Linked DNA regions of Homo sapiens. The protein of the gene in region 2 interacts with the protein of the main gene of each other region in a pairwise test. Each region holds a gene or a part of one and is shown on either strand. Other genes may lie near its edges. The genes, in order: SPA17, ROPN1, FAM153A and AKAP14.

Region 1 (7,883 bases), on a different chromosome or scaffold from region 2:
TAATTTTAGTTTTTTCCCCTTCCAACTTTTATTTTAGGTTCAAGGGATACACGTGCAGATTTGTTACATGGTTAAACTCTGTGTTAAGGGGCTTTGGTGTAGAGACAATTTTGTCACCAAGGTAATCAGCATAATGCCTGATAGGTAGTTTTTCAATCCTCACCCTCCTCCTACCTCTGCTCTCACATAGGCCCCCAAGTCTATTGCCAAATGATTTCTCTTAATAACGTTCCTCTTCTAAATATAGTTTATCAAATGTTTTCAGTGGAAAATATTTAAAGTTTCAGATTGTGCAACAGATATTCACCCTGACCGGATATGGAAAAGACCAGCAACATTCAGGAAATTGGCAGAGATTTTGAGCTCTGCTAGGGCAGGGCAAAAAAAGCAAGGGGTGGAGCTATGCAGTGTGTGTGGGAGTTGTTTTAATTCTACCCTTGTGCTAGGTTTTCTTCCACTATAAAATGATTACAATAGAATGTTTGTTTGCTTGTGCCTATTTCTAGTCACCTTTACCACTCTGTTAGAATACTGTAATAAAAAGTAATGATGACAAGAATTTATACAAAATGGATGTTCTAATCAACAATGGCTTTCCAGGGGTTGGGGCAGGGGTCGTGGGAGTGCCCAGGATGGAGTGCAGTGGCTATTCACAGGTTTAATCATAGCTCACTACCGTCTTGAATCCCTGGGCTCAAGTGATCCTCCTGCCTCAGCCCCTGAGTAGCTGGTACTAAAGGTGCGCACCACCATGCCTGGCTTAGGATAGGTTTTTAGTACAAAACTGGTAAAGTCCTGACAGTCATAAACCTTCAAGGTTGGGGATTTGTAAATTTTATTTATAGGAGTGAAGGAATTTTGCCTTGGCTTTCAACCAAATAGTTATTGTTAGTGGGCATCTGGGTCTCTGTGCAGGATGGAATTTAGCATAAAGAATATAAATTACCTTTCCAAACTGGTATTCCACCTTTCAAATCAGTTTGTCTGTGCCGTTATTGCAGAACAGTTTCATATACCCCAGTGAATATCAGTTTATTTAAAGAGTGCAGAATTCTTTTTGCAGTACTTAAAATACTTTCAAATGGAAGGAATCAAAATTGAAAGGAAACCACAGATACTCATCTCAGGAATAACAGTCAGCTGCCAGGGATGCATAGGAACAGTATGCTGGAACGTGGCGAGGGTAGACTGTATGATCTTTTTTTCCCCCACTGATTTCTCCCGAGAAATGTATGCTCTTTTGCAGTTACCTTCCACGCTGTATGTCCGTGAGAAATACAATGAAGACGGTCTGAATAATGAACTGGTAATCTTCGATAATATGAAACGAATTTAAGAGAACATATCAAAGAGGTACATACTGTTTCAAAGAGCAAGAACTGTTATCTGAAACTCCCTGCCTCATAAAAGGCTTTCTGCAGAATGGAGATGGTCTTAAGCAAGTTTTACCATAAACAAATGCTTAGTTTCTTATTTTAAAAAATGACTAATTTTAGAAAGCTTACTCTCTCTTTTCTCTAGAAGGCTCTCAAAATAGGCTGCTGCAAAAGCTGGTATATTGTCCGGTTGCTCTCTCAGAATCTCGCGTGTCAGCCCTTCAAGAAGATTCCCAAATCCTTGTGGAATTCGGTAGTGGGTGTTGGAGAATGGAATCGACATCTTCTTGGTAAGAACTGCCTATGGAACCTAAAGATTCATTAAAGAGTACTGTCTTTAAATTTGTCTGATTTTACTTATATAATCACAACTATGCCAACAAATTATTTCTGAGACTCATACATCTGGACTTGAATTCTTTTTTCCCTAACACAACCCAAGCCCATCCATTTCTTCCAAAGAGTTTTGAAATCTCCATTGTGAATTAGTATAATACAAACACAGACCCATTCACTAGGCCAAATCATTTAAAATCCTGCAAAAAACCCATAATTTTCAATATGACTTTTTCTCTCTTTACCCTTTATATGCTCAAAAGGTAAGGGTAATTTTTGCTATCACACAGGAATTTAGAGAGAATGATTGCTAAAAAGTTAAATTCATTGTCAATTGCTGAGAAGACCTTCTTTGAGGTCTATTTTTTTTTAAAGAGTAGAAATTAGTCCTGGTTCTAGAAATTAATTTGTTGAATGAAGAAGTTGCACAATCTTTCCCCTTGCTGCCACTTCTGAAGCATGACCCACAATGCTTCGAACACCTTCGTACTGTGGAATGGGGTTGTGCGTGCGTGTGTGTGAGGGAGGGATGGGATGGGATGGGGCTGTGTGTCATGATTTTGAAATCCCAGCCTCTAAAGTTTTAGAATTCTTATATTTTTCGGTTTCTTCTTGATCAGGTTGTCTCTTTCTGTCTTGAAATACAAGGGCTAGATTAAGGGTAGCTGCTAAGCAGCGGGCTGAGCTACTACTGAGTATGAAAAGAATCCTCCGGGACCTGGCCTGTTAATGTGAGAGTGTGCGTCAATGCGGAATAGAGGCGGAGGCCGTGGTAGGGGTCCAGGTTGGGAGAACTGGACGGTTTAATGAGGCTCAGACTATGGAGGGTTCTCGTTTCATCGCTTTTTTTTTCTTTGAGAGGGGGTCTCTGGCCTCGAACTCCTGGGCTCCAGCGATGATCCCGCCTCAGCCTCCCGAGCAATTGGGATTACAGGCGCGCGCCACCACGCCTGACTCCTCTCTTTTGCTTTTTCTGAGGGAGCAGTAGATGGGGGTATCGAACCATTCTAGAGTGGTGAAAAGAGCTGGCGAGATTCTGAACCAATGTGGGCAGAGGAGGGCGGGCGGAGGGGGCAGACGGGTCTAGTCGGGGGCGGGATGTTGAGGACCTGGGATTTCAGACTCGCGCAGAATGGGCTGCCTCGGCTCCCAAACGGCCCAGGGCTCCGAGGCTGTGTCTGGGATGCTGAGAGAATAAGAGAGACGAAGGGAAAAGGCTAGGTCTTGGTATCGGAGAGGAAGTGGGGAAGCGGCCTCACCTCCTTTCTCTCCGAGCTGGTGCCGCCGGTTCCGGTTGTTTTTCTAGTTGCTGGGTAACCGTTTTTTCTTTAAAAAAAAAAAAAAACTACGGCGGCCGAGAAGGGGCGAGTACAGCCCAGTCCTGAGGTCGCGGGAGGCTGCGAGGACTGCAAAAGGGTGGAGTCGGCCTCGCCCCCGCCCAGGCCCCGCCCCTGCCGGGAACCCACTTTCCCAGTCCTAGGCGGCGGTCAGATCCTTGCAAGCATGGTCGCGCCGGGGCTTGTACTCGGGCTGGTGCTGCCATTAATCCTGTGGGCCGACAGAAGTGCAGGTGAGGCGGCCCGGCTCGGCCGGACCCCTGCCCCTCAGCCTGTGCGGGCTCCGAGACCCCGTGTCCTCTGCGGGACACGGATCCGCGCCCCTTTCTCAAGGTCGACGAAGGAACCTAGCTAGGCTAGGGGCTCGCGTCTCCGACCGAGGCCCGGTCTGCAGGAGTCTGCTGGGTTGAACCCCGGCCTCTCCACTTTCTCCACCCCCCACTTACCATCCCTGACATGCAGCCTGTGAGCAGGGAGAAAGTGCGGCTTGTCTGAGTGGGGAGGCCCAAATGTGCCCAGAAAGAGGCCTTCGGGGTCCTGGAGTAACTGCAGGGGAGCTCGGAGGGAAGGAGGCGAAGCTAGTTAGGTAATATTTGGAAACAGGTGACTGAATCTTCCAAAACATTTCAGCGCTACCCCCTCAGTGGTGCCCTTGGGGAGGGTTTGCTTCAGGCGGGGTTCCTTAGGGGAATTAAATTTTACTCGTTTAAGTGGTTATCAGGGCTAAGAAATACAACCCCCTCACTAGCTCTGACTATTTAAGGCTCAGTTTTGATTTCTGGTACCGCTTACAGATATTGGTGGTGGGAAAATGTGAGTGGCATAGGGGAGGCTGGTGGCTCCCTTTGGCTGTTGCGCAGGTCAGATCTTGCCATTCGAATACCCTAGGCTGGACACTGGGTCACAGTATGGAGAAAGCAGAAGGTGCAATCTGTCTGATAATGCAAACTAAAGTGATAATGTTGGATTTCTTCCTTTCTGTTTCAAAACACTCAAAGAGTGGACCCCAGAGATCCCTGTTAAGAAATGATAGTTGGGGTAGGAGAACAGCGTGCAGAAAAATGACTCCTGCTCTACCTGAGAGCCGGAAAAGTACCTAGATTCAGACAAACTGCAGCCCATAAATGATTGTTCAGAGTCTAACAAAAGTGCAAAATGCTAGCACTCTGTATGCCATTTCCTGACTCTTATCTCCACTCAGTGACCTTTGAGATCCATCTTATGAGGTGGGGAAAAGATATTTTATTAGGTTTTCAGTTAAAGGCTGTTTATTTTAGTGTCAGTATTTTATCTCCTCCTTTGGGTCTTATTGTTACATCACCTTCATTAACATTGATCACATTTTTCATTCATTAGTACTCTACTTGGTTGCGTATCCTGACGTTTTTCCTTTAAGTCATTCTCCCTGTGCCCATGTTTACCATGTAATGCTTGAGATGTACAAAATTATATGTAACAATGACACAATAAAATGAACACCCATGAGAGCAGTACCCAACTTAAGAACTAGAACATTGCCAGTCTATTGAGCCTGCCATTGTGCTCCTCGCCAATGCATCCGGAGCTCCTCACCAGAGGCAACCACTGCCCTCTCTTCCCCATAACACTAATTCCTGTTTTTCTACTCCAGCCCCAAATGAAGGAAAAAACTGAAGACCTAAAAAATCCAAATGTTGGCTCACACCTTTAATCCCAGCACTTTGGGAGGCTGAGGTGGGCGGATCACTTAGAGTCAGGAGTTCAAGACCAGCCTGGCCAACATGGCGAAACCCCGTCTCTACTAAAAATACAAAAAAATTGGCCAGGCGCGGTGGCTCATGCTTGTAATCCCAGCACTTTGGGAGGCCAAGGTGGGCAGATCATGAGGTCAGGAGTTCGAGACCAGCCTGGCCAACGTAGTGAAACCCCGTCTCTACTAAAGATATCAAAAAAAAAAAAAAAAAGAATTAGCCAGGTGTGGTGGCACATGCCTGTAATCTCAGCTACTCGGGAGGCTGAGGCAGGAGAACCGCTTGAACCCCAGAGGCGGAGGTTGCAGTGAGCTGAGATCGCACCACTGCACTCCAGCCTGGGTGACAGAGCAAGACTCTGTCTCAAAAAAACAAACAAACAAGAAATCAAATGGTAAATGTATGTGTCTTGTGTTTGGCACAAGGAATGACCAGCCTTGCTCTCTTTCTCATTCTCTCTCTCTTTTTTTTTGTCCATTGCACAATTCCTTGATGTTCCACTGTCTACTCTAATGAACTTAGAATTTAAACTTTACAAAGATGAGGAATATGATTTTTTCTTTGATTTGCCACAAGTATCTAATTTCGGCAAAGTGGGAATTTCAACTTTGGAATCAAGTGACTTGTTTTCTAACTTGTCATAAACTGTGTGATTTGAGACCAAAGAACATTAATGTTTGTGGTGTGTTTAGCACTGTGCCTGCCACAGGTAAAGTCTCTAGTAGAATGGAAGCTCCCTGTGGGCAAGGATTTTTGCCTGCTATTATTATTATTATTTTTTCATCGTTATATCCCCAATGCTTAAAATAGTAGGCATCAATAAATATTTGTTGAATTAACTAATGAACATGCAAGCTATTTTAAAAAATTGTTTCATCTGCTTTGGTCTCAGTTACTTGATCAGTAATATGATTATACTTCTTGATCAGTAAGTAGCGTGTTTATACTACGATTATGAAGATCCTTTCCACCTCTAAAACTCTTTAGCCCAGCACAGAGTCATCCACAAAGATGTTCACTAAGTGTATGTTGGTGAAAACAGACAGACTTGGGAAGGTATTTCCCCTAGCCTATGGACTACTGACTGCACACAAATGTGCAAGCTGCAGCCATTCCCCTACCCCCACCCTCTCTCTACTTAGCTCTTATTTATGTCTGTGGTTTTCCTTTTTTTGGTTCCATATGAAGCACCTACCCAAGACAAGGCCCTCCCACACATGTGCCTCCCCCTTCCCTCCAGCAGGCTGCCAACCTGCTTATGCAATTCTGGGGCGTTGTATTCTTTTCTTAGAGCATTTTGCTCATGGTAACCGTGCATCTCCAGCCCAGTAGGCCTTCTGGGTGATCTTTCATTGTCATGTAGGTTTCTTGATCACACTAGCTCATAAGAGAGCGCTGAGGATTTTTAGGGACTGGGCTGTTATTCCAAGAGCAGGATAAATAGGCCACGGAGCTGTGTAGGCGACTCCATTAGCTGTGCTGCCCTGTTAAGTATAGCCGAAGGGGCCCTCATCATTTGTAGCTTCCAGGGAGGAAAATGTCAGCCTTGTTAATTCTGGTTCTCTTTTCTGCCTATCATTTTTGTTTAAAATGCTTAAAAAGATCTAAATTTTGTTAATTATTTTAGGTAGTTTGGGGTCTGTTTTATTCAGATAAATTGGGATATAATTTGTTTTATTTTTTTCCTTGTTAAGTTTTGATGAGGAACACGCTGAGATAATTTGGATGGATGTTTGTATTAATAAAATACTTTTATATAGGCTGGATGTTAAAAATAGGAATGATGTCGTTAAAGCGAGTTCTTATTCAGTCTTGTTAGTGACTCTCTAGAATAGAATCCAGTTTCTAGTGTGCTTTCTCTTGTCCTTTTAGTATAATTTAGCTTGTGGAATGGGTAAAATTGTGACAGAAGACCTTTGTTCAGACATGTTGACCTTCTATCTCTCACTGACCTTATTTATGTGTCTTGATTTATTTGAATTTACCTGAGAAGGAAGCTGACTTGTCATGAGTATTTATAAGGGCTTATTTAGAATTTTTGATGCAGTACACTGGGTTGTCAAAAAACCATGATAAGGGGCATTATTTGAAGGAAATTGGCATTAGTGGCATAGAAAAGGGGAGATAGAGAAGGGGAAAAAGATTAGGGAAGGCTGTTTGGAGAGAGGCATGCTGTTTTATTCCCAGTCATTAGGAGCAGGTGTGGTAATGGAAAGTAGGGAAAGGAAGTGGTTTATTTTTCTCATAAACACCATCTATAGGTGCATGAAAGGAGCATTTTAGTGATTTTGCGGGAGAGAGCCCAGCGTTAGGGCCAAGCCCAAGAGCAAAAAAAGATCAAGAGCTCTGAAGGAGAGGGAAGACTATGGTCCATTGGTTGCCTTGGGCTCTGGGAATTTTCCTTAGTGGTCATCATGTGCTATGATGCATACTGTTGGAAACTGTTCTTGTTATGTTGCTTGCCTAATTAGGAGGAAGAAGAGCCAGTTTTAGACGATTAAAGGGACTTAGTATGTTAAAATTCTCTTGCATAAAGACTGTATGTTCTTTGCTGTTTCACTTGATCCAGTTGGTGCTATATCTCTCCGATGATGCTTCCCTCAGTGTTTGTTAAATTTTTTAGGTATTGGTTTTCGCTTTGCTTCATACATCAATAATGATATGGTGCTGCAGAAGGAGCCTGCTGGGGCAGTGATATGGGGCTTCGGTACACCTGGAGCCACAGTGACCGTGACCCTGCGCCAAGGTCAGGAAACCATCATGAAGAAAGTGACCAGTGTGAAAGGTAAGGCAGCCCATCTTCCGTTCAGCTATTGCCCTCTTCTGCCACCTGCTGGATTATCTGAAAATGAATGCTAATGCTGTAGCTCACATTATCCATCCGTCCCTACATCCGTCTGTCCATTCATCCATAAAAGTTATTTGAATATTTGCCATGTGCTTAGGCACTGAGGATACAAACAAAAATAAGACTGAGTCAAAGTTCCTGTTCTCAAGGAACTTACAGAATAATGGGAATAGATACCAAGTTATATAGGACAGCGTGATGAATGCTATGATGAAGGTACATGTGGGGTGTCTTGGGGTACAGAGGAGAAACATTG
Region 2 (8,005 bases):
TACTTATGAGAGTAAGGAGAGAATTTCATGTAGGTAGAAGGACTTAGGCAAAGATGTGGGGTTGTCAGAAACGTGACAAGTTCAGGGAACTGTAATTATGGAGCTCTAAAGTGGACAAAGCAGGAGTGGTTGGGCCTAAGGCTGGAAATATAGCTCAAGGCTTGGGCTTTTGAACTTTTTGTTGAAGGCAATGGGGAACCACTAGAAAATTTAAGCACAAGAGTCACACAATCAGTGTTAGCTTTAGGTCCGGTTATCAATATTTGCCTCTCAGCTCCAAATTCACCTTGTATTGCCTCCTCCACAAAAATTGAACTAGGTCCTTTAACATTTTTTCCCTTGTCAGCTGTCATAAGGATATGCTTTGTTAGGACAGGGCACTGGAAGGACTGGAGGAGGAAGAGGTTTCTCTTAGGAATTTAGGTATGCTCTTCTTGCTAGGCTCCAGGAACTTGTAGTTTCTCCTATGCTGGGATCCTGTAGCACACAGCTTTTCTAGCATCTGTTTCATGCAGTGTGTGATCTTTTGAGTGCCCAACTGCTGGAGTACACAGTGGCTATCAGTGCTCCATGGCTAGCAGTGTCCCCTGGCACCTCTCTTGGGAAGCTCTATAGCAGAGTGCTGTCAGTGAGTTACCTTTTAGTGAATGGCTTCTCTGGTGTTTCAGAGAGTAAATTTTGCCTGCCTGGCACCTCAGCAATTTCTCTGCTCTCCAGTCAGCTGTGGCCATCCCCTATGCACCAAGCTCTGGGAAAGGTTTCTTCCTTGGGTGATCTATCTCAGGGGTAGTGGTTGCCCCTTATATCTGTGATTCCTGTATATTTTAGATCTCTCCTGACATATTAGCCAATCCTTCATTACTCCAATCCCATCATTAACAATTCTTTATATTGAACTTCTCTTGTTAAATTATATGCTCAAAAAATTACTATATGATTTATTTCTCTTTGTTGGACTCTGAAACACGTTGACTGACAGCTGTGTGGATGAGCTGAAGAGAGGATGGTGAAGCTTCAGGCAGGGAGCCAGGTTAGGAGAATATGGCAGCACTTTTGACAACTCCCAGGAGCTTCACTGCCTTGAAAAGTAGTTGCAATAGGGAGTGATATAAGAGACAAGTATTTAGGAGATAGGATCTACAGGATTTGGTAACTACTGAAGGAGGAGGAGGAGGAAGAAAAGAGGAGGTGGAGGAGGAGGAAGAAGAGAAGGTGGAGAAGGAGGAAGAGGTGAAGGACAGAAAAGTCTAGAGTGACTATCAGTTTTCAAGCTTGGATGACTGGGTGCACAGTGGTGGTACCCTTGTAGAAATAGAAAACACTAAAGGAGGGTCAGGTCAAATTATCCCCCCATGTTCCCATTTACTTTCAGGAGTTCCATGCACTTTTGAATCACAGAGTTGAAATCATAGACTCTCTGAGTTGAAGAGGCACCAAAGCCCAGCTTTCCTGCCTTTGGGCAATAAGGGTCATTTGTTCACATCAAAGAAGTGGGAGAAAGGTCCATTCTATCTTAACATTCCTCAATTCTAACATTTTGTAAAGTTATTTTCCATTTTTAAATCTCTTGATAGTGTAGGTCTTCTTCAATTATACATTCCAGAGCTTATCCATAACCCCAACTCTTTCAATTCAATGCATTTCCTCCTAAGTGAAACCTACATGCCTCTCAATGTAAAATGGAGGCCAACATATACCTGCCAAGTGCTGAAGAATGTAGGTCTTAAAATAGACTATAGCCTTGTTTCAGGGATCTCTCACTTGGTTTTATTGGTATGGGCTAAACAGGGCTTCCGTTTCATAAATGAAAGTCTCCAGTAACATGAATGAAAGGCTCCAGGGCAGAATCTCAGAGGGTTTCTATGAGTATCACTTGGAACCAAGCACAGGCAACTGCACATCCCTGTTTGGGTTTGGAATTGGAGATGGTGGGTTTGGGATGTGGTTACTCTTGTTTGGAATACATTCTCCTCCTCTTAACAGGTTGATTCTTCCTTTGGAGGTCTGCTTAACCTTCCCTGATTACCCTGTCAGTTCCATTGTACATACCCTTCCAGAGCATCACTTACCTATCCTTAGTGTGATTCTTTGAGTAACATGTGTCTCCCCCAGCAAACTCCACGGCAGGACTGGTCAGTTTTTGCTCACCACACCATCCCAGTGCCTAGCCCAGTGCCTGGAACTTAGTGTTCAATAGGTACTAGTAAAAATGAATGCGTGATAGCAGTCTATGAAGTGCTAGCTATAAAATGAACACGTGATAGGAGTCTATGAAGTGCTAGGTATAAAATAATGCGTGATAGGAGTCTATGAAGTGCTAGGTATAAAATAATATGTGATAGGAGTCTATGAAGTGCCAGGTATAAAATAATGCCTGACAGGAGTCTATGAAGTGCTAGGTATAAAATAATGTGTGATAGGAGTCTATGAAGTGCTAGGTATGCCCATGACATCCACATGACAATTCACCCAGAGGTATTTTTATATCCCTGTCGCTGATGAAAAAGCAGAGGTGTGGCTCCTCGGTGGAGGGCTCTGATTCCAAACTCTTGAGCCTCCCAACCACTGTCCTCCGGGTAAGAAACCGTATAATAGTATTCTGGGTACAAAATACGCACACAAATTGGCCAGAAAGCCATAATCCCCCACAGTCACATTCTCTTGAAGATCCCCTTGCCTTCCCCTTGCCCTGTGAACAAGGAGAGGCTCAGAATCCAGGGGGCGTCCGGCAGGGCTCCTCCCTCAGACCAGCGCAGCCCTCGGGGCGCTCAGAGCCCTGCCCTCCCTCCACTTCCCCTCGGGGTGGCTACCTCAGGCTCGCTCCCAAACCGGCTGTCTGGCTTCAGGCGACACCTGGCGCCTGGCCTCAGGCGAGAGGTGTGGGGAGAGACCGAGTGCCTCCCACCCTTCTTAAGAAGGAGAGCAGTAGAACCTCGGCGGGGAGGGCAGCAGCGGCCGGGGGTGACAGCAGCGGCGGGGCACGACCGCCGTTAGCGTTAGACGTTAGCGCTCCGCCTTCGCCTGGCAAACCCTGCGCGGGCTCCGCTGCCAGGTCACCAGGGGTAGCGCCGGGCGCGACGTCACAGAGCCGCCCCGCCTCTCCTGCAGCGGCGGGTTCCCAGGGTCCCGCTAGGGCGCTGCTAGGGGACGCTGAAAGCTGTTTTGGGCTTTGCTGGTGGTGGAAGGACCAGACGGCCTGGAGGGTTAAGGACTGGGCTGGGGACGTTAGGAAACCCGGGCTGGGGGCGTTGGGGGTGGGGCGGAATGTGTAGCCATTGACGGTGCGCTTTTGTAGGTGAGAGGGCAGAAGTGGAGCTTGATCTTTCGGCTTGTGGAAAGTGGACAGGTGAGAATTCCTCAGGAATCATAGTAACAACACTTCTTACAATGAGTTTTTGGTGCCAGGAATTGTTCTAAGTGCATTACACACATGAACTCATTTCATCCTTACTGTCACCCCATGAGGCAAGTACTATTGTTATCCCCATTTTTACAGATGAGGGAACTGAGCACAGAGAGGTTAAACTTGTCCAAGATGACAGTCAGCAAGTGACAGAGTCAGGATCTGAATCTGGGTTGCGTGGTCCCAGATTCCTCACTCTTGACCTTATAATGCTAAGAAAGGGGCATGGAGTGGATAGGAACAGAGCCTGAGATGCCTGGGGACAACAGGGAAAGATAGAAAATATTTATAGGGTAGAATGTGGTCACTGTGCCAGGGCACTTTTACAAACATGATGACATCAAAGTTTCACAGTAAACTCTGAAGGTAGGTATTACCTTCGCTTTGGAAATAAAAAACAGGCTCAAGGCTTCGAGTAATTTTGCCTGTGATCGAACAGCTGGCAGTAGGGCTCAGGGCCCAACTTTACTCCAGGTCTTCCGGTTTCAAGACTGTGTGTGTGTGTGTGTGTGTGTGTGTGTGTGTGTGTGTGTGTGTGTGTGTGTTTTGAGACAGGGTCTTGCTCTGTTGCCCAGGCTGGAGTGCAATGGGGTAATCATGACTCACTGCAGCCTCAATCTCCTAGGTCTAAGCAATCCTCCCACCTCAGCCTCCCAAGTAGCTGAGACTGCAGGTGCTTGCCACGATGACAGGCTAATTTTTATATTTTTATAAACGGGGTTTTGCCATGTTGCCCAGGCTGGTCTTGAATCCCTGGGCTCAAGTGATCCACCTGCCTTGGTCTCCCAAAGTATTGGGATTACAGGTTTGAGCTACCGCACCTGGTCTCAAGACTGTTCGTTTTAAGCACCCAAGGAGGCAAGAAAAGCCCCATCTTTCTCTGCTACATCCCGTGTCACTTCACACCTATTTTAAAGGGGCCCATTGCATCATCTAATCCTTCATTCCATTTATACAACAGTGTGTATTAGTCTAAATAGATTAGTTCACCCAGGCCCTTCAAAGCTTTCTCTGTTTGTGAGATGAAAGCCTTTGTCTCTCCCTAAAGCAATTTTAAGCATCAGTGAACAAGTGGGGGAACTAGATTTTTGGGTTACGCATGCAGAAAGCTTTTCACAGCCTGTTGTCATCCATTTGTAAAGAGGCCACTCTGCTGGCATTTGTCAAAATCCTGTAGGTCCTTGCACACCTGGAGAATCCTGGATGGTCTGGGGATGGCCACTGCCCACAGGGCAAGATCTGGGGATGAAAGAAACCTAGTCACTAGCTATCACCTGCCTTTCTGAGGCCTCTGTGGAGGGGCTGCCAGGTGTTGGTATAGGCACTTGACAAACAGGGTGTGCCTTAGGTTGGGAGGGGGAGGCTGGAGGCTTGAGGGCTGCAGGTGCATCTTCCAGGATAACAAGAATGCTCTGGCCACTGGGGTCTGTTCTGTTGTATGCACATGGGATAAAGGTGTGCCAATCTCTTCCTGCTTTCATGCAGAGTAAATAATGCTGACAGGAGTGAATAATAATGATCTTTGTGCAGAAGAAGGGGTTTTTCAGACAAAGCACTAGCAGCTAGAGATGGGAGATGAAACAGAATAGAATTTTAGTGTAGCAAGTTAAACACAAGGGAGGAATTTCATGGGACTGTCTGACTGAGGCGATTTGATGTCTGTCTGTAGGAGGCCAGGTTGAGAGGCCTAGGTTAGATTATCCTTGATCTGTTAGTCAATAAATATAACAGGATACAGTCAAGAGAATACAATTTTACAGGAAAATGATAATAACATAATTCAGGAAAGTTGCTTTCTTCTAAAACAGAGGTAAGAGTAGAGAGGGAGGAGCACATAGATGTTACTGGTAGTGGTCTAGTTTTGGGGTGGGTGATGGGTTCATGGGTGTTTATTATGTTTCAGTAAAAAATCTGTCTTAAATATTACAATAAAATCTTTTATTACATACAATCTTTTATCAAGTAGGTTACACTGTTTTCTGCTATTTTCTTGTACGAACGAATATTGACTATATCCTTTCTCATCATTTCCCTTTTTCTACTAGATAATTCCCATCAACATAAAAACATGCCTTCATCATTTTCCTCTTCAGCTTTGACCATTTTCTCTGCTTCCCTTTATTGCCAAGCTCTTTAAAAGAGTTGCCTATACCTGCCACCTCTAATTTCCCTCTTCCAAATCTCTTTTTAATATACTTGAACCAGGCTTTCATCCCCACCACTCTACTGAAATGACTTGTGTTAAAGTCCCCAATGACATGCTGTTAAATCCAAAATCATCTCTCAGCCTCGGCTCAACCTATCAGCAGCCTTTGACCCTGTTGATCACTTTCACATGCTTGAAACATTTTCTTTCCTTGGATTCCAGGACATTAGACTCTTGGTTTTTCTCCTTCCTCATTGGCTGTTCTTTCTCAGTCTCTTTTGCTTGTTCTTCCTCCTCTCCCTGGCACTTTAATCTTGGAGTGCCCTAGGATTTACACTTGGACTTCTCTATCTACATGCACTCTCTTTTTTATCTCATCCAGTTTCATGTTTTGGATACTACATTTATGTCTTCAGCCCTAATCCTTCCCTAAATACCACATTAGAACATCCAACTGTTTACTCTGCACCACTGGATGTCTATTAGGCTTCTCAGGCTTAATACACCCCAACTGCACTCTAAGATTCCTCTCCAAACCAGTTCCTCCAGGCTTCCTCATAGAGGCTAAAAACCTTGGCATTATCCTTGGCTGCTTTTTCTCTCACACCTTAAATCCAATCAGAGCAAATGCTATTGGCTGTATCTCCAAAAGTCATTCAGAATTGGAGCACTTCTCTCCACTTCCATCACCTTGGTCCAAGCAAACTTCATCTCTTACCCGGACCACTACAATGGCTTCCTAACCTGTCTCCCTGTTTCCGCCCTTCCCTTCCAGGGGTCTGTTCTCATCACAGCTGCAGGATCGAATTACTGAAAACCTAAGACTGATCATGTCATTCCTCTGTTTAGAACCCTCAGTGGCTCCCACCTTATGCAAGTAAAAGTCAAAATAACCCACAGGCCCTTAAACTCTCTGAACCCATCATTTTCTCTTTTCTCCTTCATCACTTCCCTCCAGCCATGCTGGCCATCTTATTATCCCTCAGAAAGGCCAGACCCTCTCCTGCCTCAAGACTTGTGCACTTGCATTTCATCTGCCTGGAACATGATTTCCTCAGGTATCCACAGGGTTCATTCCTTAGCACCTTCGGTTTTGTATCCAAATGTGACCTTCTAAGGGAGTCTTATCTGACTCTTTTAAGTTGAACACCAATATCCCTTCCAACTCCTCCCTTGCTTTATAATCATTACATACTATGTATTTTTAAATTTTTGTTTTATTGATTTCTCTATATTTTTTCACTGGAGTGCATGCGATTCTGTTTGTTTTAGTCACCGCTGTATTTCGAGAGCCTCGAACAGAACTGTGCACATAATGGGTACCATAAATATTTGTTTACTGAATTAAATTCTCCTTTTTTTTCTCTCCTTCCACCTTGTTTCCCCTTCCTTCCTTAAGAGGGCCTTCTGAAAAATGATACTTTAGTGTCCATTCAGCTTTGCATGTTCAGTATCTTAGGGACTAAAGTTCTATCTGGCCAAGTAACCATAGGTCTGGCACCAGAGAGTGGGAATCCTGACGGTCTTCTTACCATCTCAGCCTTATAATAAATATCAACTGTCTCATACTATCTCTGAGCTCAGAGAGTCAGTTCTCCCTATCCTATGTGGCTTATATTGTGGGTCACTTTCCCCAGATCTTAAATGTGCCATTTCATAGGAGGAAACGAGAGTGACCCTGTCCCACCTGCTGCTTGGATCATGGTGAGGCTGGGGCTGAGCAGTGATGATGGGTACACCATACTCAGGTTCAGCACAATTCTGTGATTTAGCTGTGGGGTGTGGTTGTTAGACTCCCCGTGGAGCCAGTCAACCCTGTGTACATAAACTCCTTTCACATATACATTTGTTTTCTTTTGCTGCATTGCAAATTACCACATACTTAGCAGCTTAAAACAACACAGATTTCTGATCTCAGTTTCCACAGGGCAGGAGTCTGAGTGGGTTAGCTGGGTCCTCCGCTAAGGGTCTTGCCCAGCTAAAATCCAAGTGTTGGCTAGGGCTGTGCTCTCATATGAGCCTTAGGGTCCTCTTCCATATTCATTGGTTGTTGACAAAATTCAGTTCCTTGGGGATGTAGGACTGAAGTCCCTATTTTCTTGCTGGATTTTGGTCAGGGATTGTTCTCAACTCATAGAAGCCACTTTCACGTCGTAGTTCCATGGCCCTGGAATGGCAGTTTACGACACTGATGTTTGCTTTCTTCCAGGCCAGCAGAGGCACCTGTTGTTGTTTCTTTTGTCTGTTTTTTAAGGCTTACTGGATTAGGTCAGATCCACCCAGGATAACCTCCCTTTTGACTAACTCAAAGTCAACTGATTAGGGACCTTAATTACATCTGAAAGTTCTCTTTTGCCACAGAATATTAATCACAGGAATGAAATCTCCTCATATTCATAGGTCTCACCCAGACTTACAGCGATGATGAGATTATACAGGGCATGTACACCAGGGGG
Region 3 (7,550 bases), on a different chromosome or scaffold from region 2:
CAGGAAGGCTTCCAGTCAATAGTGGGCTATTAGTAGCTAAATTGGGAAAATCAAAAGTTATACTTAGATTTTCAGCTGCACTGGAATCAGAGCCCCTAACCCCCACATTATTCATGGGTCAAGTGTAATTATGTATTTACTAAATATAAACAATTTATTATAAAAATAAACAACTTATTACAAAAATGAACTAGAAGATCCATATGTATAACAAGTCCAATTTGTTACAATGTGACTATAGAGAAAACATAAATATTATATAGGATTTTCGGGATCATAATTAAGTAAATGATTTTTTTTCAGATAATACTGTTTGAGATTATAAATCAGCTACAACTACCTTCTTAAATAACTCTTAATTCCAAACTAAAGAAGTTAAATATAAGAAACTAATTTACATGTATGTATATATGTATATATACATGCAATTTACACATCTTTTTAAACTTTTCTTTTCCTTCAAAACTACCTTAATCTTACATCTTAATTTTTTTAAACCAAGAGTAGGACCACCATGAGAAATGAGAAATTCACTATCAGAAGTCTTACCTGGATTGTAAGTTTTAAGAATCTTCTTTTTAAGTTCCAAAATTTGGTGTCGAATTCTGTATATAAAAAAGTAATAAATAAAATTGCTATTTTAATACTGAAATAAAAGTTACCATATTAAATTCTTAATGTTTGGTAAATGTGTAATCAAACTGATTCTTTTTTCCTCGCTGGCTAAAACAAAATACATCTTCGCACATCAACGTACTTCTATATCTATTGTCACCTTTGATGGTCACATATTATTGCATCCTATGGATGCAACTGAAATTTACTTATAAGATCCATTCTATGGGTTCTTTTTAAAATAAGTGCTGTGAAAAACAAAGTGCATGTATCTCTATTTCCCAAGGGTATTTTAGTATAATGGAATTGAAGGGTAACGGGCATACGCATTTTTAAAATATAGTACTTACCACCAAATTATCTATTTAAAAAGTAATCAGCAACTTAAACTTCAGGCAGCAGTATAAAAAACATCCTCACACATTGTGGATAGAAAACAGTTTCATTCCTCTTTTAATTTAAATTCTTATACCAGAAAAGCAAAGGCTTTTTTTCCTATTTACATAAGAAACTTGTAGATCTGCAAAAAAGTACTTTGCCCCCTTTTACAGTTTTTGATTATTTGATTTGAAAGAATTCCCTGTAAAATGAAGATGCACTTTTCAGGCCGGGCGCGGTGGCTCACACCTGTAATCCCAGCACTTCTGGATGGCGGCTCACTGCAAGCTCCCCCTCCCGGGTTCACAGCATTCTCCTGCCTCAGCCTCCGGAGTAGCTGGGACTATGGGCGCCCACCACCACGCCCGGCTATTTTTTTTTTTTTTTTTTTTTTTTGTATTTTTAGTACAGACAGGGTTTCACCGTGTTTGCCAGGATGGTCTCAATCTCAATCTCCTGACCTCGTGATCCGCCCACCTCGGCCTCCCAAAGTGCTGGGATTACAGGCCTGAGCCACCGCGCCCAGCCCTAAAATTTTTACAAATGTCATTACAATAGTAAAAGACAGTAGGTGTCATGCAAAAATGTTAAAACCTTGATTTTTTCATTCGGCTTATGTAAAATTGATAATCACAGAAAGAGCTCACATTTTGAGAAAAATGTGTCTTCCCATTCAGGAACACAGAACCCACCTCCCACTTCCAAGTTTCCTTCTAAGAACCTTCAGTAAAGAACCGATCTACACAGGTGGATACGGATGTAAAACGGACAGTTTTAGGTGAGAGCTTTTCGCTACTGAAAATGACTCACGGTTTTTTGTTTGTTTGTTTGTTTTTCTTTTTTGGAGACGGAGTCTCGCTCTGTCGCCCAGGCTGGAGTGCAGTGGCGCCATCTCGGCTCACTGCAAGCTGCGCCTCCCGGGTTCACGCCATTCTCCTGCCTCAGCCTCCCGAGTAGCTGGGACTACAGGCGCCCGCCACCACGCCCGGCTAATTTTTTTTTTTTTTTTTGTATTTTTAGTAGAGACGGGGTTTCACCGTGTTAGCCAGGATGGTCTCGATCTCTTGACCTGGTGATCCGCCCGCCTCGGCCTCCCAAAGTGCTGGGATTACAGGCCTGAGCCACCGCGCCCGGCCGACTCACGGTATTTTTTGATAGAGGAATGAGTTCTCTCATTAGGCACCTCCTATAATGTATATAACACCATGTTTTAAACGTGTAGGTTAAAAATAACACTGTGTATGCTTAGCTTGGTGAGTTAAATCACTCACATTCTCCACCAAGCGCTCCAGCTGGGGAATTATGGGGGATGCAGAGCAGCTGAGGCTCCGTTTGGCACCACCCCTCTGAGGGTGCCCTCTGAGGCCCCATCCCAGGGGCTGCGGGGAAGCCGGGCCTGGGGACCCCCTCCCACCCTGGGCTGAGCCCCCACCCCACTGCCTGTGCTGCCTGTCCCCGGCTTCCAGGTCTCTGCTCCTGCGCGCCAGGCAGCGCTCCACTTCCGCGGCTTCGCCCTTGACAGCGCCCTGTGGATCTTCCGATTCGGTACCCCGAACCCCTGTAGACGTGGCCTAGGGAGCCCCGGACCGCCGGCCCCTGCGGCTCCCAAAGCCGAAGAACTTCTTCAAGGTGGTGAGTTCTTCTCAGACCCCCAACCACTGGCTCCTGAGCCGCGGCAGCTCCGTGTCACCTTTTCACTCCCCCTCGCCCCACACCCAGCCCCAAATCCCCAATCCAACTCCAAATCCCCTATCCAACCCCCAATCCGCGATCCAAACCCCAATCCGTGATCCAACCCCCAATCCGTGATCCAACTCAAAATCCCCGATCCAAATCCCAATCCGCGATACCAAGTCTGCGATCTAGCCCAGAATCCGCGATCCCGCCTGGTCCACCCTTCAGCAGCGACACTGGCGGCCTCCGACCTCTCAGACCTAGTGAGCCTCGCAAAGCCGCCCGGCTCCCGGAAGCCGCAGGTGCAGGCGCCGCTGGGCTCGCGGGTTCTCCTGGGCTGGCCAGGGCTGCCCCAGGACCACGGACGGAAAATCGCAGGCGCGCGGCCCACCCCGCCTTAAGGGGAGGGCCCGCCTGGCCGTGTAGCCCGCCCCGCTCCTCCTTCCGAAGAGAGATCTGGTGCTGGCATGGGCACCCCGCGGCCACCGGAGTGGCTTCCCGGATGAGCCTGGCTTCGGCGCTGACGCTCTGGCCCTGGGGGCTGCCTGGCTGGTGTCAGGTAGCGGAAGACGCCTGGAGAGTCACTCGCTCCTTCCCCCACCCGCCCCCACCGCTGCTCGTGCCAGGACGCGCAGTTTGCAGTTGCAGCTCTGGCACTGGCGCGGGATGGCGGAGCTTCCCTTGGATGGCGTCAGGGTCACTGAGTGCACAGCCTACCTGGTCTGAGGGTCTGCTCCTCCTGGACACCTCTCCGGATCCTGATCCCTGGCGCTGGGCAATCCACAGGATGAGACTCATCGGCTGCTGGCGAAGCCGACCGCCTGACTTTGCTGCCTGGGCGGCTGGCCCCGGGATCCGCGCTGCTGGGGACGCGGGCCTGGTCTGCGGTGTCCAGCCACTTGCTGCGGGCGCGCCACGTCTAGGCTGGTGGCTGCAGCCGCAGCTCCGCGCCTGCGGGGGCTAGTGGGCCTGGTACCTGATGTCCTCAGGGTCAAGTGCATCGCTCCCCCACCTGAGGGTCTGCTCTGCCTTGACCTCCTCCAAGAGCGCAGGGGCCACCGGGGAGGCAATTTAGGAATGCCTAAATGGAAGGAACTATCCTTTCTCTGTCTTTAAGAAATAAGTGGCTTTTGTTGTTGTTTTTGTGATACCCAGCTACAGCAGAAAGCAAAGGGGATGCAGAGGTGAAGGTCCACAGCCAGTTCCTCTACTGATTCCCTCCAGGCATAAATGTTCAATCTAACGGCTTTGGTTGGCACTTTCACCTCAGCACTTACCTATGCCTACAGGTTTGTTCAATGGCAACTCTTGGATTTTGAATTAATACCCAATTATTTCATATTTTAATACCCAAACTATTTTAATAGTTTACCATATCTGCAATCCTGAATTAATTTTTTCTTTGTTTATAAAACAATCACTATAGTAAGATAAAAATCACAAAACACTTCCACATTTCATTGGGCTAAAAAAGCATTAAAACATTATACGTAAAAGATAAAAAATATATTGTTTCATCATAAAAATTATGGCTTTGCAAATTTTTTTTACCTTTAGCTACATTCTTACGATTCTTTAACTTTTCACTGTTATTTTATACATTTTTAAAACAATGCATACCAGTGTTTAAAAAACAAATGCAGCATTTCATCTAGGACTGAACATATAACGCTGGTCAGCTCTTTCAGCATGGTGCAGGTGTGGGCCTCAGGCTGCTTTCTGTTTACATGTATCAAATGACATGACCATCTTAACTGCACAGATACCATCTTCTCGGCTTCTTTCTTCTCCCCCAAAACTATTTAATGTTGCTTTAATGGCAACATCAATTTAACTAGTTTTGTAATTTCTGTATTTAATTGTCACATAACATTATATCCGTTCTTTTTTTTTTTAAAAAAAAAGGAAAGCATACAATCTTAGTTGCTAGGCCAGTTCTTCTGAATCAATTTGAAATCACCTTTTTTCTCTTTCATAATAACTACTTATTTTAATCAACAAGTCAACTATTATTAGATATTAACTTATTTTTTCTAGTTAAAATTTTGCTATCTTTCAAATAATTCCAACTCTTACACACACATTTAATGTACATAACTGTAACATATACATACATAAGCACAGGTTAAGCCAGATCTAACATGAATTTAGATATGCCAAGAAAGCCACATGACCATTATTTACATAAATATGACCAGTGTTCACATTTATCAAGGCCAATGAATATTAAGGTGATTGCTTCAATAAGAAATTAGGTGAAGAATTATTTGTTGAATATTGTCAAACACTTTTTTTAACCTGTTAAAGTTATTTAAGCCTGACCCAAATAATTTTTAAACTTTTTATTCTATCATGCCTATAGACAGCTTCATATATTAACCATTTCTGCTTTCGTGGTCCTTTGAGAATGGTATCTTAGTATGTAAGTGCAATAAATAAACAACTTTTAAAGGAATAAAGAAAATTGATATAAATTAGTCTGGAAAATCTAGTCTGTAGCTGGGCAGCCAGGTGCCCCCAGCTAAACCTCAAGGGATGGTTCTGTTAAAGTGAAGAAAAGAAGAATAGTGTGTAACAGAAGCCTGCTCTGTGGCTCCAGGTTACAGCTGTGGCCACCCAATCTGCCTTGTGCCTCCTTCTTCTCACAAGTACACACTCATCCCAGCCCCAAGCAAGAAAGACCAAAGTCCCTTGCCAGGCGCGGTGGCTCACGCCTGTAATCCCAGCACTTTGGGAGGCCGAGGCGGGTGGATCACGAGGTCAGGAGATCGAAACCATCCTGGCTAACACGGTGAAACCCCGTCTCAACTAAAAATACAAAAAATTAGCCAGGCGTGGTGGTGGGCGCCTGTAGTCCCAGCAGCTACTCTGGAGGCTGAGGCAGGAGAATGGCGTGAACCCGGGAGGCGCAGTTTGCAGTGAGCCGAGATCACGCCACTGCACTCCAGCCTGGGGAACAGAGCAAGACTCTCTCTCAAAAAAAAAAAAAAAAAAAGAAAGACCAAAGGCCCCTTCCGTTACTGTATCCAACCCACAGTGCAGGTCCTGTGGGCCATGTGCTATGCATCCCACCTGCATTCCACCTGGTTCACAAGTGGCTCCTTGATGTCCAGTGACCTATGAAAAATCATTTGTTAGGCCGGACGTGGTGGTTCACGCCTGTAATCTAGCACTTTGGGAGGACAATGTGGGCGGATCACCTGAAGTCAGGAGTTTGAGACCAGCCTGGCCAACATGGTGAAACCCTGTCTCTACTAAAAATACAAAAATTAGCTGAGTATGGTGGTGGGTGCCGTAATCCCAGCTACTTGGGAGACTGAGGGAGAAGAATCGCTTTAAGCTGGGAGGTGGAGGTTGCAGTGAACCGCTATTAAACTCCACTATTCTTTATTGGGCACAACCCAGGAGGTCAACAAATGTATTTTCCTGTTTTTATTTTATTTATTTATTTTGAGACAGAGTCTCACTCTTTTGCGCATCTGCACTCTAGCCCAGGTGACAAGAGTGACACTCCATCTCAAAAAAAAAGGTAATAATAATAATTATTATTATTCGTGGACCTGCTGGGTTACACCCAATAAAGAATAGTGGTGTAGAATCAAAATAGTCCCAATAAAATTTATATATATATATTTTTTATTATACTTTAAGTTCTAGGGTACATGTGCACAACGTGCAGGTTTGTTACATATGTATACATGTGCCATGTTGGTGTGCTGCACCCATTAACTCATCATTTACATTAGGTATATCTCCTAATGCTATCCCTCCCCCCACCCCACAACAGGCCCTGGTCTGCGATGCTCCCCTTCCTGTGTGCATGTGTTCTCATTGTTCAATTCCCACCTATGAGTGAGAACATGCAGTGTTTGGTTTTTTGTCCTTCCGAGAGTTTGTTGAGAATGATGGTTTCCAGCTTCATCCATGTCCCTACAAAGGACATGAACTCATCATTTTTTATGGCTGCATAGTATTCCATGGTGTATATGTGCCACATTTTCTTAATCCAGTCTATCATTGTTGGACATTTGGGTTGGTTCCAAGTCTTTGCTATTGTGAATAGTGCCACAATAAACATACGTGTGCATGTCTTTATAGCAACATGACTTATAATCCTCTGGGTATATACTCAGTAATGGAATGGCTGGGTCAAATGGTATTTCTAGTTCTAGATCCCTGAGGAATCGCCACTCTCTCTTCCACAATGGTTGAACTAGTTTACAGTCCCACCAACAGTGTAAGTGTTCCTATTTCTCCACATCCTCTCCAGCACCTGTCGTTTCCTGACTTTTTAATGATCACCATTCTAACTGGTGTAAGATGGTATCTCATCGTGGTTTTGATTTGCATTTCTCTGATGGCCAGTGATGATGACCATTTTTTCATGTGTCTGTTGGCTGCATAAATGTCTTCTTTTGAGAAGTGTCTGTTCATATCCTTCGCCTACTTTTGATGAGGTTGTTTGATTTTTTTCTTGTAAATTTGTTTGAGTTCTTTGTAGATTCTGGGTATCAGCCCTTTAGTCAGGTGAGTAGATTGCAAAAATTTTCTCCCATTCTGTAGGTTGCCTCTTCACTCTGACGGTAGTTTTTTTTGCTGTGCAGAAGGAGCTCTTTAGTTCAATTAGATCCCATTTGTCAATTTTGGCTTTTGTTGCCATTGCTTTTGGTGTTTTAGACATGAAGCCCTTGCCCATGCCTATGTCCTGAATGGTATTGCCTAGGTTTTCTTCTAGGGTTTTTATGGTTTTAGGTCTAACATTTAAGTCTTTAATGCATCTTGAATTAATTTTTGTAAAAGGTGTAAGGAAGGGATCCAGTTTCAGCTTTCTACATATGGCTAGCCAGTTTTCCCAGCACCATATATTATATAGAGAATCCTTT
Region 4 (7,020 bases), on a different chromosome or scaffold from region 2:
AGGCAGTAGGACAAGTAAATAGACTCTAGTAGGCAGAAAGAAGTGCGAAGGGAAAAATGAATCAGAGAAGTGGAGAGGGTTGTGATTTTAGATGAAGTGGCCAAGAAAAGCCTCAATGAGCAGGTGATAGTTTTCAACAAAGATCTGAAGGGAGGTAAAGCAGTGAGCCATGGGTATACATCTTAGGGGAGAGGGTTCCAGGCAGAGGGAACAGCAAGAGCAAGGGTCCTGACAGGGGAACATGCCTGGCAGTCGAGGAACGGCAAGGAGGCAAGTGTGGCCGAGGGAAGAAGGTGAGAGGGGGGAAGGAGTGATGGGAGCTGAACCATAAATCAGGAGGGGAAAGGGAACTCAGATCATATTGGGCCTTGTAGACCATTGTCAGGACTTACTTTTGCCTTTTACTCAGAATGACCAGTGGGATTTGCAAGGGAAATTTTTCCTACTTGCTATGTGTTCCATTCTAGTTTGATTCAGGAACCCTGAGTGCAGTAGGCAGGGGCCTTTGCCCAACCCCAAATGGAGAAGTGCTCCACAGCAGGAAGGCTCAAGAATAACTTGCACCATTCATCTTCACTATGCTCAAGATACCCCTCCTAATGAGAACGGTGAGTGGCGTCCGCTGGAGCATAGAAGGCGTGGAGCCAGAAATCCCTGACTTTTCCTCCTTCACACCTGACCAGGCCTTCCTAAGGCCTGGGAAACTGCCCTGAGGGCTGTAGGCTTTGAGGTGCTGGCCTGGGGAACAGAGAGAGCTGGAACTTTTCCCAGGGGTAGGGGAGTTCGCCTCCACCAATTTCAACTGGTCTCTGTTCCACAGAAGCACAATGAGAAGGATTTCAAGCCTTTTTTTTTTTTGAGACAGGGTCTCACTCTGTCACCCAGGCTGAGTGCAGTGGCACAATCACAGCTTACTGCAGCCTCGACCTCCTGGGCTCAAGTGATCCTCCCACCTCAGCCTCCTGAGTAGCTGGAACTATACGTGCATACCACCACGCCCGGCTAATTATTATTATTATTTTTTGAGACGGAGTCTTGCTCTGTCGCCCAGGATTGAGAATGCAGTGGTGTAATCTCAGCTCACTGCAACCTCTGCCTCCTGGGTTCAAGCGATTCTTCTGCCTCAGCCTCCCGAGTAGCTGGGATTACAGGCGCCCAGCACCACGCCTGGCTAATTTTTGTATTTTTAATAGAGACGGGGTTTCACCATATTGGCCAGGCTGGACTTGAACTCCTGACCTTGTGATCTGCCCACTTCGGCCTCCCAAAGTGCTGGGCTTACAGGCGTGAGCCACTATGCCTGGCCTAATTTTTTAGTTTTATAGAGATGGGGTCCCACTATGTTGCCCAGGCTGTCTCAAACTCTTAGGCTCAAATGATTGATTCTCCCGTCTTGGTATTTCAAAGTGCTGGGATTACAGATGTGAACCACTGCGCCTGGCCCAAGCCATTCTCCTTTATTCACTCACCAGTTATGCAAAGTAATCCAGGGCCTTCTCAGCAAAGCTGCCACACGAAGAAGTCAGAGTCAGACACAGGCAGAAGAACAAAGGAATTCATGGGATTGTACATCTTACTATGCAGGCAATATATTCCAAAGCCAAATCAAAAAGTCTTTTGATCCATCTGCATCCCCTCTGTTAACAGGAGCATTCTAAAGTTGGTGGTGGAGGCTGGGTGCAATGGCTCACACCTGTAATCCCAGCACTTTGGGAGGCCAAGGCAGGAGGATCCCTTGAGGCCAGGAGTTCGAGGCCAACCTGAGCAACATAGCACGACCCTGTCTCTACAAAAAAAAATTAAAAATTAGCCAGGTGTGGTGACACGTGCCTGTCTACTTGGAAGGCTGAGGTGGGAAGATCGCTTGAGCCCAGGAGTTCAAAGCTGCAGGGAGCTAGGATCGAGCCCCTGCACTGCAGCCTCGGTGACAGAGTGGGACCCTGTCTCTAAAAAAAATAAACAAAATAATGGTGGTGGAGAACTCCTATTTTGGAGGAGCATCTCCCTCCTTAGGCCACTAGGCCCCCATTTAATGCACCAGCATGGACAAATTGCTTAAGTAGGAAGAGCAGATTTTCCCAGGGAAATGTAAGGTTAGAATGATACAGACACAGGGAAAATGATTGTGATTGTGCATTTCACCTTCAAAGACTATCCCACCTTGATTTTGGAACTGAGATGGAGATGATGTTTACTTATTCTAGTCAGCCCCCTTTGATACCATCTCCTAGATTTTCCAGACTTCAAACTTTTGATCTGCTGAGAGTCTCTTTATTGTTCTTCACACCGGTGTACCATGCTGGAGTGGTCGGCCTAACTTACCGAAAAATATTCGTCAATTTGTTTAAGACCCTTTTCCACAGTGAATTCACCGTGAGTCATCCACTTGATGTTTTTCAAAGGGTTTCGCTCCTCTGCAAAAAAAAGGTGTGAGTTCGTTAGTTGCCAGGTAGTGTGGTGCTATATTTAGACTATATAGACAATTATTTAGGCATCCAAACAAACAGGATCACTACCTTCCACAATCTTAACAGCATAATTGATGACATCCTCAACCAGAGCTAGAGCTACTTGAGTCAATTCATCCTCGTAGTTCTTGTCTTGTGTATTCGGCATTGTTTGGCTTGCGGCTTTGTTATCCTCATCCATTGCTTTCTGGCTTGTTGAATTTTGAGTCTCACTCATTTTCTTTTTCCTGGGGAAAAAAAGAAGTTACTGTGTGCCTGTGTGTGTACACACATGTGAACGCACTCATATAAGTACAGATCATCTCTTGAAGAATCACAAGAGACAGGAAGCAGTTATTGCCTCTAGGGAGGGGATTAGGGGTTTAAGGGTAGGAGTCAGACCTGTGCCTGGCTGCTGCTATCTACTTTTCCTGAAAACCAAGGATTCTCACATTCTCAAAATCATAATGAGGCCCGGCGCGGTGGCTCACGCCTGTAATCCCAGCCCTTTGAGAGCCCGAGGCGGGCGGATCACCTGAGGTCAGGAGTTCAAGACCAGCCTGACCAACATGGTGAAACCCCGTCTCTACTAAAAATGCAAAATTTGCCGGGTGTGGTGGCGGGCGCCTGTAATCCCAGCTACTTGGGAGGCTGAGGCAGGACAATTGCTTGAACCTGGGAGGTGGAGGTTGCAGTGAGCCAAGATCGCGCCATTGCACTCCAGCCTGGGCAACAAGAGCAAAACTCCATCTCAAAAACAAAACAAAAAACAAAAAAAACACCATAATGACTTAAATCAAAATGTAGTAGAAAAAAAGTAGCACTTCTTTGGAGTGCCTAGCAATATTGATTCCAAGTTGAATCTTTGATAAGAAACCCAATCCCTGCTAGGAGCAACTGAGGGCACCTGGCTCTTTTAAAATGATGTTAAAATGAAGTGGGTGTGGTGGCATGTGCCTGTAATCTCAGCTATTCAGGAGGCTGAAGCAGGGGGACAGTTTGAGGCTATGAGTTTGAAACCAGCCTGGGCAACATAGTGAGATCTCCCCACTCCCCAACCTGTCTTAACTTTTAAAAAGAAATATAAAGGCCCGGCGCGGTGGCTCACGCCTGTAATCCCAGCACTTTGGGAGCCTGAGGCAGGCATATCACGAGGTCAGGAGTTGAAGACCACTCTGGCCAACATGGTGAAACCTCGTCTCTACTAAAAATACAAAAATTAGCTGGGCATGGTGGCTCATGCCTGTAATCCCAGCTACACAGGAGGCTGAGGCAGGAGAATTGCTTGAACCGGGACCCAGGAGGCAGAGGTTGCTGTGAGCCGAGATCGCACCACTGCACTCCAGCCTTCCAGCCTGGGCTACAGAGGGAGACTACATCTCAAAAAAAAAAAAAAAGTATAAAGACAGTGTTTTGTTTTTTGTTTGTTTGTTTGTTTGTTTGAGTCAGAGTTTTGTTCTTGTTGCCCAGGCTGGAGAGCAATGGCGCTATCTCGGCTCACCGCAACCTCCGCCTCCCGGGAGAATCCAGGTTCAAGTGATTCTCCTGCTTCAGCCTCCCGAGTAGCTGGGATTGGAGGCATGCGCCACCACGCCCGGCTAATTTTGTATTTTCAGTAGAGATGGGGTTTCTCCAAGTTGGCCAGGCTGGTCTCGAACTCTTGACCTCAGGTGATCCACCCGCCTCGGCCTCCCAAAGTGCTGGGATTACAGGCGTGAGCCAGCGCGCCGGCTAAGATAGTGTTTTTTTTTTTTTTGAGACAAAGTTTCGTTCTGTCGCCCAGGCTGGAGTGCAATGGCACAATCTTGGCTCACTGCAACCTCCGCCTCCCGGATTCAAGTGATTCTCCTGTCTCAGCCTCCCGAGTAGCTGGGACTACAGGCGTGTGCCACCATGCCTGGCTAATTTTTTGTAGTTTTAGTAGAGACGGGGGTTCACCATGTTGGCCAGGCTGGTCTTGAACTCCTGACCTCAAGTGATCCACCCACTTTGGACTCCCAAAGTGCTGGGATTACAGGTGTGAGCCACCACACCTGGCCTATAAAGATAGTGTTAAAATGAGTAGAGGCATTACAGCAGAGGAATATTGGTTTCATAATTCTCTCTCTTGGGTTTTTCCAGTACAGTATACAATTATATCATCTCCAATAAACTGTCACTTTTATCATCTTTTTTCCAGGAGTATATATCTCTTATGAGTATTAGCTTTGGTTAATACTTCCAGAAAAATGTAAAATGAAAGTGGAAATAATGAGCATCCTCCTATTGTGTCTGACTTTAATGGCCTTGCTTTCTGGTGTTACACCATTAGTATGATGCTGGTTTGTGGTTTGAGATGTATCACATCAAGAAAACATTCGTCTGTTCCTGTTCTAGTAAGATTTTTATCATAAATGATAGCTATAATCTTCCAGATGCCTTTAACATGTATTGACAATGTGAAAATTTGTGTTACTAGGGCTGTAAAGATGGCTCCATCACAGAGCTAGAAGTCTTTCCTCATTTTCAATGTTTTTTACATCTTTTCCCTTGAGTCTTAAATCCTTTCTTTTCTTGCTACTGTTTAAGTCTCTTTGCTTATGAAAAATTGCTTACTTCCAGCACAGCTTTAAATTCCTTACAGGCAGCCGGGTGCAGTGGCTCAGGCCTGTAATCCCAGCACTTCGGGAGGCCAAAGTGGGAGGATCGCTTAAGTGCAGGGGATTGAGATCAGCCTGGACAACATAGCAAGGCCCCATCTCTACAAAAGTTTAAAAAATTAGCCAGGTATGGTGATGTGTGCCTGTAATCCCAGCTTTCTACTCACAAGGCTGATGTAGGAGGATCACTTGAGCCTGGGAGGTCGAGGCTGCAGGGAGCCGTGATCTCACCACTGTACTCCAGTCTGGGTGACAGAGCGAGACCCTGTCTCAGAGAAAATAAAAAACATGGCCAGGCACGGTGGCACACGCCTGTAATCCCAGCAATTTGGGAGGCCAAGGGGTTAGATCACCTGAGGTGAGGAGTTTGAGACTAGCCTGGCCAACATGGAGAAACCCCATCTCTACTAAAAATACAAAAATTGGCCTGGGCCAGGTTTGGTGGCTCATGCCTGTAATCCCAGCTCTTTGGGAGGCCGAGGCGGGTGGATCACCTGAGGTCAGGAGTTCAAGACCAGCCTGGCCAACAAGGCAAAACCCCGTCTCTACTAAAAATACAAAAATTAGCCAGGTGTGGTGGCACGTGCCTGTAATCCCAGCTACTCGGGAGGCTGAGGCAGGAGAATCGCTTGAATCTGGGAGGCGGAGGTTGTGGTGAGCCCAGATCACGCCATTGCACTCCAGCCTGGGCAATGAGAGTGAGACTCCATCTCAAAAAAAAAAAAAGTTGGACTGGCATGGTGGCCAGCACCTGTAATCCCAGCTACTCGTGAGGCTGAGGCAGGAGAATTGCTTGAACCCGGGAGGCAGAGGTTGCAGTGAGCCGAGATTGTGTCGCTGCACTCCAGCCTGGTGACAGAGCAAGGCTGTCTCAAAAAATAAAAAATAAGTATGTTGCAAGCAATCCTTCCATTGAGTGGAAGGGCTACATGAAAGTGGGTATCTCTCTCCAAATGGAGCTATTTTTCTATAAATAACAGCTCCCAATTTGGGGGTGTTTAATGTGCTATGTTTCATTTAACTGTCATCACAGCCCTATGAAAGAGTGCGCTGGGCACCTTCCATTTGCCTTTCCAAATCCACTGTCCTTGCATCTCCTCCTGCTTCCTGCCCTGGAAAACTAACCTGACTGCACCCATAAATGGTGCCCTCTGGCTTCTAGGGGGTTCCACACAATAAGGAGATCAGGAAGTCAAAATGTATGTCCCTGGTGGTTTTCTCCCTGCGAGTTGGCTGATGGCTGGCTGCATGAAGTCCCCAGCGTCTTTCAGGGTGGCGCTCTCCCAGCTTCCCAGTGTGGTAAGGGTAAGCATTCTCTCCCCTCAACGTTTTAGGCCCACTGTTACTAGCCCCGGGGAGCTGCACCTTCCTCTGTTGCCCTGCAATCTGGCCACACCTTTGTAAATATTCCCTTACTTAACCCTTCTACAGCTATCCTCATTTTAATATGCCAACAGTTTCCTACAGGAGCCCTGAGTCACAGACAGAGGGCCTGTTGCTGCCATGTGAAAATGAGGAAACTGAGCTGTACACCCACAGTGTCTGGCTTCACAGCCCATGCTCTCAACTGTGCTGCTCTTCTCCCTCCAAGATTGAGAAAGAGCAGTAGGGCCCTATTCTCACATTTTCTTTCTTCCTTTTTTTTTTTTTTTTTTTGAGACAGAGTCTTGTTCTGTCACCCAGGCTGGAGGGCAGTGGCACGATCTCCGCTCACTGCAACCTCCGCCTCCTGGGTTCAAGCAATTCTGCTGCCTCAGCCTCCCGAGTAGCTGGGATTACAGGCACCTGCCACCACGCCCAGCTAATTTTTGTATTTTTAGTAGAGACGGGGTTTCACCATCTTGGCCAGGCTGGTCTTGAACTCCTGACCTCCTGATCCACCCACCTCAGTCTCCCAAAGTGCTGGGATTACAGGTGTGAGCCATCGCGCCTGG

The links.
Region 1: the proteins of ROPN1 (region 2) and SPA17 interact in binary tests that used the Homo sapiens proteins (3 or more experiments, as listed by UniProt).
Region 3: the proteins of ROPN1 (region 2) and FAM153A interact in binary tests that used the Homo sapiens proteins (3 or more experiments, as listed by UniProt).
Region 4: the proteins of ROPN1 (region 2) and AKAP14 interact in binary tests that used the Homo sapiens proteins (3 or more experiments, as listed by UniProt).

What each region holds. Positions count from the first base shown.
Region 1 is NC_000011.10:124,669,041-124,676,923, reverse strand, and holds the start of SPA17 (sperm surface protein Sp17), read right to left. Parts: upstream 3,021-7,883; 5' UTR 2,972-3,020; exon of another isoform or gene 2,822-2,971; intron 2,731-2,821; exon of another isoform or gene 2,431-2,730; intron 1,687-2,430; 5' UTR 1,660-1,686; coding exon 1,506-1,659; intron 1,500-1,505; exon of another isoform or gene 1,362-1,499; intron 1,354-1,361; exon of another isoform or gene 819-1,353; intron 740-818; exon of another isoform or gene 621-739; intron 1-620. Other genes in the region: SIAE (sialate O-acetylesterase isoform 1 precursor), read left to right, coding at 3,216-3,282, 7,403-7,564. UniProt on the Homo sapiens protein: Sperm surface zona pellucida binding protein. Helps to bind spermatozoa to the zona pellucida with high affinity. Might function in binding zona pellucida and carbohydrates.
Region 2 is NC_000003.12:123,989,112-123,997,116, forward strand, and holds the start of ROPN1 (ropporin-1A), read right to left. Parts: upstream 3,014-8,005; 5' UTR 2,811-3,013; intron 2,248-2,810; exon of another isoform or gene 2,070-2,247; intron 1-2,069. UniProt on the Homo sapiens protein: Important for male fertility. With ROPN1L, involved in fibrous sheath integrity and sperm motility, plays a role in PKA-dependent signaling processes required for spermatozoa capacitation.
Region 3 is NC_000005.10:177,779,900-177,787,449, forward strand, and holds the start of FAM153A (protein FAM153A), read right to left. Parts: upstream 3,001-7,550; 5' UTR 2,844-3,000; intron 606-2,843; 5' UTR 550-605; intron 1-549.
Region 4 is NC_000023.11:119,898,889-119,905,908, reverse strand, and holds part of AKAP14 (A-kinase anchor protein 14), read right to left. Parts: intron 2,696-7,020; 5' UTR 2,686-2,695; coding exon 2,517-2,685; intron 2,415-2,516; coding exon 2,323-2,414; coding exon of another isoform or gene 2,314-2,322; exon of another isoform or gene 2,250-2,313; intron 1-2,249. UniProt on the Homo sapiens protein: Binds to type II regulatory subunits of protein kinase A and anchors/targets them.